Regions from separate parts of the Homo sapiens genome. Here region 2 is linked to region 1. The links come from fine-mapping of genetic effects on gene expression. Tissue or cell type: esophagus muscle. Region 1 holds a variant in brackets; the other region holds the start of a gene. All regions are shown on one strand. Distances are between the middles of the regions. Region 1 overlaps GRB14 (growth factor receptor bound protein 14). Region 2 holds the start of GRB14 (growth factor receptor bound protein 14).

What was found. PIP is the estimated chance that this variant, and not a neighbour inherited with it, causes the effect.
Region 2: GRB14 starts here. The variant in region 1 is the best candidate, but not a certain one, in a credible set for the expression of GRB14 in esophagus muscle (GTEx, PIP 0.52).

Annotation. Positions count from the first base shown.
Region 1 is chr2:164,565,300-164,570,688 of GRCh38, reverse strand. The region is part of intron 2 of GRB14 (growth factor receptor bound protein 14); the gene reads left to right. Among named protein-coding and RNA genes, the nearest start is that of GRB14, 53 kb to the left of the region's middle. The variant T/C (reference allele first, on the strand shown) is at 2,362.
Region 2 is chr2:164,618,818-164,624,206 of GRCh38, reverse strand. GRB14 (growth factor receptor bound protein 14) reads left to right here and starts at 2,725. Exons shown (of 14, transcript NM_004490.3): 1 at 2,725-3,088; 2 at 4,388-4,520. The coding sequence starts at 2,898.

The sequences.
Region 1 (5,389 bases):
ACTTTGAGACCTTGACCCTGTGTTCACATCAGTTTTCAAGTTCTGCATATTCCTCACCTCTATTCACTTTTCAAAGCAAGTGCCGTTTCCTTCTTGCAGCCTGCCCTGATCTTACCCCTATTGTGCAGTTGCTTCTACCTTGGTGCACCCTTGATACTTAGCATTTAATCACTGTTAGTCTCAACTTACCACTGAATGGGATATTTTAACTTAAAAATTAATATCTCTATTCCACTATGAGACAGTGACCTTAACTGTCTTAATAATAGTGTGTTCCTACTGCCTGATACAGGGTTTGGCAAATAGTACTTTGCTTGATAATTTAGTGAAATGAATTACTTTCATTATGATGGAACCCCAGTAAAATTTTTGAGACCAGAGATAACACTTTTTTTTTTTTTTTTTTTTTTTTTAGATGGAGTCTTGCTCTGTCACCCAGGCTGGAGTGCAGTGGCGCGATCTCGGCTCACTGCAACCTCCACCTCCCGGGTTCAAGCAATTCTCCTGCCTCTCAGCCTTCCGAGTAGCTGGGACTACAGGCACGTGCCACCATGCCTGGCTAATTTTTTGTATTTTTAGTAGAGGCAGGGTTTCACAGTGTTAGCCAGGATGCAGAGATAACACTTTGTAATATTTGAAGGCTAAATTGAGAAAAGAAGACAGATAAGGCCAAATATTATGGGTGATATTCTTGAAATTATTTGTTACCATGGTCTTTGTTATTGTTGGCTTGCTGAAAAGTAGCTCAAGGTTAGAACAGAATCTTTTACTTCACAAATGCTAACCCCCCATCGCTGTATTAGTTGGTATTTGCTTTCTTGGTAATTTTCTTTTAAAAGATCATGATAAACCTAACTGGATAAGGATCAAATTAATTAATGCCTCCAAAATAGATCTGTGACTTTTTATATTAAGCGCATTACTGCCACTCCCAACTACCATTCTGAGGGATTTTTGGTTTTGAAATTCAAAGCAGGGATCCTTGGAGTTGTAGTGTCTCTTTTTTCTTTTGAGGAATATGAGCTCACCATGCATATTAAACTCACTTATGTATAAAGCAGTAAAGTGAACACTGCCTAGTAGCAGTCAAGATAACGAAATGGAAAGTTTGTGTCTGTGTTGCTGAGTATCTTCCATTTTGCCTTGTTACTACAACAACCACATTGTAATCTGGAAATTACCAGTTCTTCTCCCGCTGAAGGCAGTGGGTCAGGATTGAAGAGCATTGAGCAGTTCAGTGAAGCTTGTCCAGATGTCAGTCCAGAAGAGATTTTACAATTGTAAAAGCTCAGATTAGTTTTAACGTTGCAATCCTTTTTGTCATTTTTGAGTGTTTCTTTCATTTTTTATTTAGACTTCATTGAAATTTTTCTTGTTAGTTATAGATGTTTTCCATTGTAAACCTCCTCCAGCCTCCCTCCCCTAGAAACATTAGAATAAACTTTTCAGTTTTTATGAGAAGAAATGCAAAATGGTCATTAAAATTTTGAGAAAGTTTTGGCAGTGGTTATTTTTTAAATGCTTTTAATGGAATGAAATATGCTACATCACACACATTTGTGCTTTTTAAAAACATAAGTATTTGAGATTGATATATTGTAGTTTAATCCCCTCTTTGTATTTAATACTATTATTTAGGTTTATTGTTAAAATAATATTTAACAGTGTGTGATATCAAGGATAGCTGGAAGGCTTATAATACAAAAATTTTAATGTTTAGGAAATGAAAGATATTAATATATATTAAAACTCTTTTATTATACCATAGAAATTAACACTTTGTGCCAATTCTAACCTCAGGATTATTTTTTGTGCCTTGTGTATGTTCCAGTTGATCTCTTCATCAATTTTATGAATAGCATAAGTAAATTTAGTTCATTAATATATTTATATACTTTAAATAGACCAATGTAAACAGATTCTTATCTGCCATATGTTGAAATGCTTTAGTAAAGACATAACTGCCTAGTCAACAAAGATGGCATTGAATTGCACTGTTTTGGAAAAAAAGTTGAGCGAACTAGATGCCTGTTAATCTGGTTCTTTAAATATCATAAACAAAAGTATCAGAATGTGTTTCCAAGGACAAAGGCGGGGTTTTCCGGGCTTTGATTGGTTGCTGCCTTGTCCTGTCCCACAGCCATCCTTAATTGGCTTTGGGTAGATTGGAATCACATAAGCAGGGTGACATTTATTACTTTCCTAGTTGTTTCATTGCACTGAGCCCTGAGATTCCCAAGGAGTAACCATAAAAGATTTCTTTTATTTTGTCCATGACCTACGAGACAGGATCATTCTAAGAAGAGCAGGCATGAGTTTGAGTGCAAGAAGAGTCACTCTGCCTGCAATAACGCCAATAAT[T/C]CTACAGAAAAGGGTATGTGACTTCTTTATCCTTTTTTTCTTTAATTTTTCTTGCTGCTTTTTTTCCCCTGTTACTGTGTGTTTATTAATACATAGGAAGCTTTACTTACATACCCTTGAAAGAGCCTATAATTCATTAAAGTTGTAGGTAAAATTAAAGGACATATTATTGGAATTGAACTAGGAAAAATAATACTGCGCTAGGACATCGCTATAGTTAAAAACTTTCACCTAAAAGAAGTTTGATCTCGATTTCAGGTCACTGTGATTTAGAGACTGTATTGAAACTTTTCCTTTTTTTTCTTTCTACTGTAACTTCAAGCCTCTTTGTTTTTAGCTCAGTAGGAAATCTGCTGTTATGTCTTATATTTGTTTACTAAGGAATAGTTTCTTTGTTTCACCATAATTCATAATATATCAATCTCTTCATTGTTGAATAGACTATACAATTATTTTACTGTTTAAACATGTGTTACCAGTTTATTCTCAGGTTTCTACCCATTTCTATTGAGCTTCTGCGTATTTGCTTAAGAAAAACTTTCCATTAAATTCCCCTGTGAAAGGGCTTTCTGTTAATTATTAATGCAGTCAATCCTGTGTATGAAAATATTTTATTTATTAGTTTTTTGTAAAGATTATTTTTATGTCTCACTTACAGCATTGCATTTTACAAGGTGGTATATGCAACCATGTCATGTAGTCATAGTAAACTTTTCTTGTAACTCTCCAAAATAAGAACATTGCACTGGACTTCTTAAAGAATCAAATCTGTCGCATTGAGAAGGAAGGCACTAAAACTCAGTTTTGGCAATATGCTTACCAAATGGTTTTGGTGACACTAGAAACTGTAGTGTTTATTTTTGAACTCAACTTTTAATAGTTAACTGTTAACTATCAGTGCATTCCATTAAGTCAAAGGTCATGTTGCAATTTATTTGAAACATGGCAAATCTAACAGTTAAAGTGGCTATAGTTTTTAAAAACGAAGTGCCTCTTTACTATTTTTAATTTTTAGATTTTCAGCTTATTTTCTTATCCAGTCAACCATTTATTTACTGAGAATATTTTATTTGGCATTGGAACAGCTATATGATAATTTTGCCAACATGAGTTCTTTATCTTTCTTGAGGCCTTTTGCTAATTGTAAGCAAATTTAATTAAAAATATTTTGCTTTGGGTTTTAACTTTTATTTGGAATTGGACTTAGCAGTGCATTAATAATGACAATATAGGTTCCTGGACTCACTGAGGATGTGAAAAGGCATATTAACATTTATCAAGTCTATGTTCTCATGTTTGAATTCTTCTTTATCCGGTTAATATTGCAGTTTAGATTGACTAAGAAACTTCTATCATATGGTTTGTTTTTGATGACATGTTGGTATGATGGAAAATGTACTATCTGGACTCTCCATTTACTAGCCCTGTGACTTTGGGCAAATCCAGTAAACTCTTGGAGTCTTTACTTCCTCATCTGTATAACAAACTGAGGAGTTTTCAGTAAATAATATCTTCAGTCTTATTTGTGTCTATAATTCTGTGAACCAAATATTTTATATTTTCATGGTTATAGTAAAATATGTAAATTATTTTTATTATTTTAGAATTATTATAAAACATTAGGAAAGAATGCTGTAATTTTCAAGGAGTTTGAACAATTAGCCTAGGGGAAATTGGTTATGGGAAAACTTGGCTAGAAAAATAACTTCTAGCACTGTTTGCCAAGTAGGAAAACAAGATTACTCTGGAAAGCGGTGGTTATTATTGATGTTACATCTGAGCTGCCAATGGTCACCTCATTGTGATTTATCGTGGTATTTTAATAATAAGCTTCTTGTCAAGTTTCTGTTATAATATTTATAAAAGTCAAAATTCCCTAGACTCAAGTCTATGCTATTTTTTTCAGTGAGTGCACATATTTTGGTGTTTATATAATTTAGCACACCATTATGTGCTTCTCCTGATATTTTAACTCTGAAAATACCCATTTGATTGTTCTGAAGATCTTAATGTCTTTTATTTTAGGAGTTGGGTATTTTCTGATTTAAAAATCATCCATCTGCCCTGGTCACACCATGATTAATTTTTTCTTCCAATATAAGAAGTTATTTCATACTTGTAATTAATTTATTTTCCATATATGCCATAATTTTAAATGATCTTATAAATCAGTACAAGCATTTCTCAGAGAATTTGGGGAGCAACTTATTTTCCCATGAAGGCAGGTGCTTTTTCCACAGGTTTGGTGTAAAGTTCACTCATCCTGAATGAGTGGCCCTTGACAAATAATTTATCAAATGGAATCCTAATCATTTAAAAGGCTGAGAGCATTCTGAAAATGCTCCGTAGCAATAGGGAGTAATTTTCTTATCAGGTAGTGTGTCTGATCCAAGTGGCTGTAAGTGTCTCTGGTAGTGCTTAGGAACTTGAATTTTAAACATGGCCCTTCATGTGGTATAGATCTATTTTGTAGCAGAGAAAGTACGCCTTGATCTTTGAGAAGAAAGGTATTTTGGTAGATTCTCTATCAAGTAAATTGGAAAGAAAATGTTCACTTCCAAATTCTATTAGGATCTGATTTCTCTGATTTAAGTGAATTAAGGTTCTGGTGAAGAACGTTCCTCATGTGCTTCAGAAACGATCACATCCTCAGCAAACATTGTGAATGAATCTTTTACCTCATCGCATTTTTCTCAGATCATCACTAGGTTGTAGCTTTTTACTTTTTCAAATGAGAAGACTGAGTCTCTTGGGTGTTGAGTGACTTATGCAAGGTCACCCAGAAGGTCAGTGGCAGAGCTAGAAATAGAATCTAGATCTTGTGACTTCCAGTATGCTTCTCCTAGATACGTGTTACCTCCTGAAATTAATATGGAAATGAAATTGCCTTATGGTGGGTATAATTGCCATTCAAGTCTGGAATTAGCTTAGGCAAATCCTTTCATCTTCCTCTGCACCTCCACCAACTCCCTTATGCTCTAGCATAGAAAACATTTTATTCAGAAAGCAATTGTAAGCAGCCAAGTGT
Region 2 (5,389 bases), 54 kb before region 1:
AGTTCTTTATTTAGAATCATTTCTTGTAAACCACTTGGATAAAAAAACCTAGTTCCTTTATTGACTTGCTTCAAAAATGTGAATGAGCTAATTCTAAAAACTCTTGGTACAGATTCTCAAGGTACTACTGGGAGTAAATTTAACATTTAGTGCCAATCTACAAGAAAAAATTATTTAGTTTCTCATTCTCAGAGACCTGTTCCTTTTCTTTTTGCCCCTGGTAATCTCAAGGATTACAATGTCTACCCATTGGGGTCAGAGGACGAGCATAAAGCCTGCAAATTGACCCTCCTTGGATTTCCACTAAATAGGAGAATGCTTGGAAAGGGGAGACAAAATAGAGATATATTTCCAGCCAAGGAATACTCTTTCTTGAGGTTAAGAAATTATGGCAATTATGCTAGGATGTGGAGCAGGATGCACCATTGGGGAATAGCATTTCCAGTGATTCCAAAGACATATACAGATTCCACCTATCCCTTTCCCCAAGAAAAAAAAAAAATCAAAAGTGTGCTCTCTTTCTCTCTCTCTCTCTCTCTCTGTCCCACCCCCGCCGTGTGTGTGTGTGTGTGTGTGTGTGTGTGTGAGAGAGAGAGAGGAGGTGAGGAGGAGAGATAGAGAGAGAGTGTTGTTGGGAGTGGAGACAGTGTAAACTTCAGCCACTAATTCATGTGCTCAACTATATTATTCTTAGAAGAAGTGACTGCCTGCAAGAGTTCTGGATAAAATTGGGATAATGATGTTAATGATTAAAGTTTACTTATTTCTTTGTTTCTTTAGTTCAAGTTGTCTGCAACTACATACCTCATTTGTTTTTTGCTGGAATAACCTCAGTATATCTGTATGCTTTTAAATTAAATTCACTTAAACTCAGGCATAGAATCTGTAATTCAGAGAACTGGATGTGAGTGAGGGCTTTGTCTGGCACATGTGTCAATAAATGTTAGTTATCACCATGATTAGTATTATTATTTTCTTCCTGAGAAAGAGAATCACCATTTTGTCCTAGCTTAGCCAAAGTATTGTATAAACTGCAGTGTCCCCAACCTTTTTGGCACCAGGGACCGGCTTCATGGAAGAAAATTTTTCCACGGATGGGGTGGGGGTGATGGTTTCGGGATGAAACTGTTGCACCTCAGATCATCAGGCATTTGTTAGATTCTCATAAGGAGCAACCTAGATCCCTGGCAGGCATAGTTCACCAATAGGGTTCGCTCTCTTATGAGAATCTAATGCCCAGCTGATCTGACAGGGGACAGAGCTCTTGCGGTAATGCTGGTTCACCAGCCGCTCACCTCCTGCTGTGCGGCCTGGTTTCTCACAGTCCATGGACTGGTATGGTGTGGTCCAGGGCCCAGGGGTTGGGGACCCCTGGTATAAAAGATCCCAGAGATCACACCCGCTGTGACCCAGGTCACTTCTGGGCCTTAATTTTGACATTAGGAAAATAAAGAACTTGGATTCCCTGAACTGTGACTCAAGGATTTTCTGTCTTCACGGAGTGCCCCAGGTTTCCTCACAGGTTGGGAATTAGTGACCCCTGGGTTCTCCAGTGGTCGGTGCCTCGGTGGGAGAGAATGCACTGAGATGGGGGAGGGGAGCTGCTGCTTTCTTCTGGAGGCAGTGTTTACCTTTCCCTGGGCAGAGGTTGTTGAAATTAAGAAAACCTGGTAAAGCAGATGCCAGGGACAGATATTACCTAATTTGGTCAAAGAACAAAGACCCTGTGAAACATTTGGAAATCCTCAACGGTGCATAGGGACGGGCACACTTACTGGAAGAGCAGAAACAGGATCACCCAGCATTTCAGAGTAGGGTTGCTGCATCTCAGAGGGTGAGCATAATAATGTCATTACTATTTCGAACAGTCTGGGTTTTTGAGAAGGAAGCTTCTGGGTTGGAATATTGACTCCACCAGCTACTAGTGCTATGTTACTAGTGCAAGGTACTCGATGGCTTTGAGCCCCAGTTTCCTTTTGTGTAAAATGAGATAAACATCTAATTTATGGAGCTGTTGAGAGGATGGAATAGGTAGCGTAAGGCAACCTGGAATTCATTAATGTAAGCTTCTCTCATTACCATAAAACTAATAGTCTTTCTAATTCCAGACACCTTCAGGTTTACTCATGCTTTACTGAGAATTCTCAAAATCTCAGTAGTTTTCTATAATGATTGGACTCCTTGCTCCCTATCAACCCCCCAATCTTTGGCTGCGGAGTGGATGGAAGAAGAGGCACGTGGGGAAGGACTGGGGCAAACCCTCTGGTGTCCTGGCCTCCTGGCCCGGTGGGGACTGTCATGGCGGCCCAGCAACAGCTTAGGTGATCTCAGATGGCAGAGCAGAAAGAATGCAAGGGTATGAGGGTCAGGGCTGCGCGGACCCCTATCCCGCCTGCGGTCCTCCCGGCAAGCCCAGCGGGAGCGCCCGCTCGGCTGGGTCCCCGCCTCCAGCGGCGCCGGGGCCGCCCAGACCCTGGGCTCAGCCTCGCGCCCCGGTGCCCACCTGAGGAGGCAGCGGTCCCGGCCTCGCGTCCCGGATGGGACGGCGCGGGAGCAATGCCAGTGGCCCCGAGCGCCCCGGGCCACGCGCGGGGCCGGCCAGCCGCTCTCGCGCCCTCCCCGCCCCCTCCGCGCCTTGCCTCGCCGCCCGCGGCCCCCACCCACCGGCCGCTCCTCCCCTCTCCCCACCCTCCTCCTCCGCCCCCTCCCCTCCCCCGCCGCCTCGCAGATAGCTCGGCCGCGCGTCTCAGCCGCCGGGGCCCCGAGCGCAGGCGGCGAGGCCACCACACCTGCAGAGCGCTCGGGCTGCCTAGCCGGCACCTCGCCTCCCGCCGCGCAAACCCCTTCTCCCCACGCGCCGAGTCTCCCATGACGCCCGAGCCCCCCGGCCGGCGACAATGACCACTTCCCTGCAAGATGGGCAGAGCGCCGCGAGCAGGGCGGCTGCCCGGGATTCGCCGCTGGCCGCCCAGGTGTGTGGCGCTGCCCAGGGGAGGGGCGACGCCCACGACCTGGCGCCGGCCCCCTGGCTGCACGCGCGAGCGCTCCTGCCCCTTCCGGACGGGACCCGCGGCTGTGCTGCAGACAGGTAGGCAACCCTGGAGGGCGCGGGGGAGTGTCCTGGCTGGGCAGCCGGCGAGGGGGTGAGGAGGCGGTCCTAGGGGGTGAGCCATGTGCCCAGAGCTGGGCCAAGTTTGTAAAAGTCTCTGAAGACAATCCCCTTTGAGCTGGCTCCTACCGGATCAGCAGGACATTGCGATCTCACAGCGCCTTATAAATAGCATCACCGTTTCATTGAGAGCTCTCATCTCTCTCGCCTCTGCCCATCGGTGGTGAAACTAGGAGCTCAGGCTGCAGGCTGATCACCTTCTGTTCCTTCGTGGCCATGCATTTTCACAAAGTAAACTCTATTTTATTTTATATATTTTAAAAAAATCGTAGCATAAATGTATTCACCTCCCACATAGAGTCTTACAGCGACCCTGTAGAAGCAAAGCATGGATTGACATTCGAGCAGTCTTGCTGTTCGGCAGGAAAGAATAGAGGCTTTAAAGGGTTTCCCAATCTCCATAGCATTCAGCACTAAGTGCCTTTAGAGTTGCACATACTTTCGGAAAGAAAAAGGGTTACAGCAATACAAAAATCTATAGTCCTTTATATTCATACATTTAAATGTTACTTTTTTTTTCCTGATTTTCAAAGCGCTCCAACTTCAGTGAAGTTAAAATTACTCTCCAGTGGACTATAGTACATTTATACTAGCAAGTTCTATTAACTTACCGCCTCAAAACACTGCCTTGCTGTTTAATATCTATAAGCGCTTGAAAAATCAACAGACTGTGTGTGGGCAACATTGTGAATGAAATTTGAAGTGAGATGAACCACAGCTATAATTAATAAATCATAACTTCCAAAAGTGATTAGTAAAATATCATAAGGATGAATGCACTAAATGCAACTTAGAGACTGTCAATATCATGGATGCATAACAATGTATGACTTCTCAGGTGATGTTTGGATTAGTAATTGTATAGTCTATTTTTCTGTTTCAGGAAAATTATCAAAAGTGATGGAGTTTCTATGCCTGGTGATTTAAAGGCAAGAGAGAGAGAAGGCGGTGGGGGGGGGAGGGGTGGTGGGAGGGGAGAGAGAGAGAGAGAGAGAGAGACAGAAAGAGAGGAACTATAGGAGATTTGTTTGTATCTAATTAACATACTGTATTTTGACCCATAGAAAGTACATCACAGACCTTTTCTATATACTTTATATAATATGAGCCTTGTCACAGAGTGGTACATGTTCGCCTTAGCACACTTTTTATTCCTGACAGCAATTATATTTTACATTCTGTTTTATGTAAATTACATCCTATGTTCTCTTACTGTAGGAGAAAAAAGAAAGATCTTGATGTTCCGGAAATGCCATCTATTCCAAACCCTTTTCCTGAGCTATGCTGTTCTCCATTTACATCTGTGTTGTCAGCAGACCTATTTCCCAAAGCAAATTCAAGGAAAAAACAGGTATGCATTTTTAAATTTTAAATTTCAAAAATCTTAGGAGTTCTGAATCCATACAGTCTTTAAGGTGTTCCGTAATTTACAGTATTAACAAAGGATTAGCATGGGCTCTGTTAAATAACTCTGTTGACTGACATGGTCCTTTGGCATTATTTTCCATTTAGGGCCTTATTCTTCTAAGCCGTATAATGGGAATGTTAAAACCTACCTCCGAGGGTCTTGGGATGGATTAAAACAGAGAATATATATAAAGTGCAGTGGTTGAGAACAATAATCATTCACCAGATAGGTAGAAGAGATGATCATTTTTAAGCCAGGAATTGGGCAGAGGCTGGGACGGGGTGGGCAGTAGTAGTGGGGTGAGAAGGGGATTGACTGATTCCTTTAATACTTTCTTTAATTTTTCACATTTTCAACCCAAGCCAACCTCATTTACCTAAGGAAAGTGATATAGTGATGCTGTGGCAAAAGGTATTTAGAATTTAGGGTCAACATGTCTTCATTTCAGTGGATTCCTCAGTTTGGAGGCTCTGGCTGCAGAAGATAGATGACTCGTAGTGATAATTAGAAGACTAAGGACCATATCTTTATGATTTTCTCCTTTTCTAGTTTGGGATTGACTTAAGCAAATTAGATTTTAAGGACCAAGCAACTAACAGAAAATACATCATGGCTGTACATTTGGAGGGGAAAAAAATAGTGTATCATAGAATAATTCATCTCTTGTCATATACTTTCTCCCAGTTTTGACCCAGCAAAACAAAGAGAAGCCTCACTAGACAAAATGCACCTTATTCTTACAAGGGTGGAAACAATACATTGAAATAGCCAGGTACTTGAAATGGGAGAAGGATAATGAACAGCGAGGACAA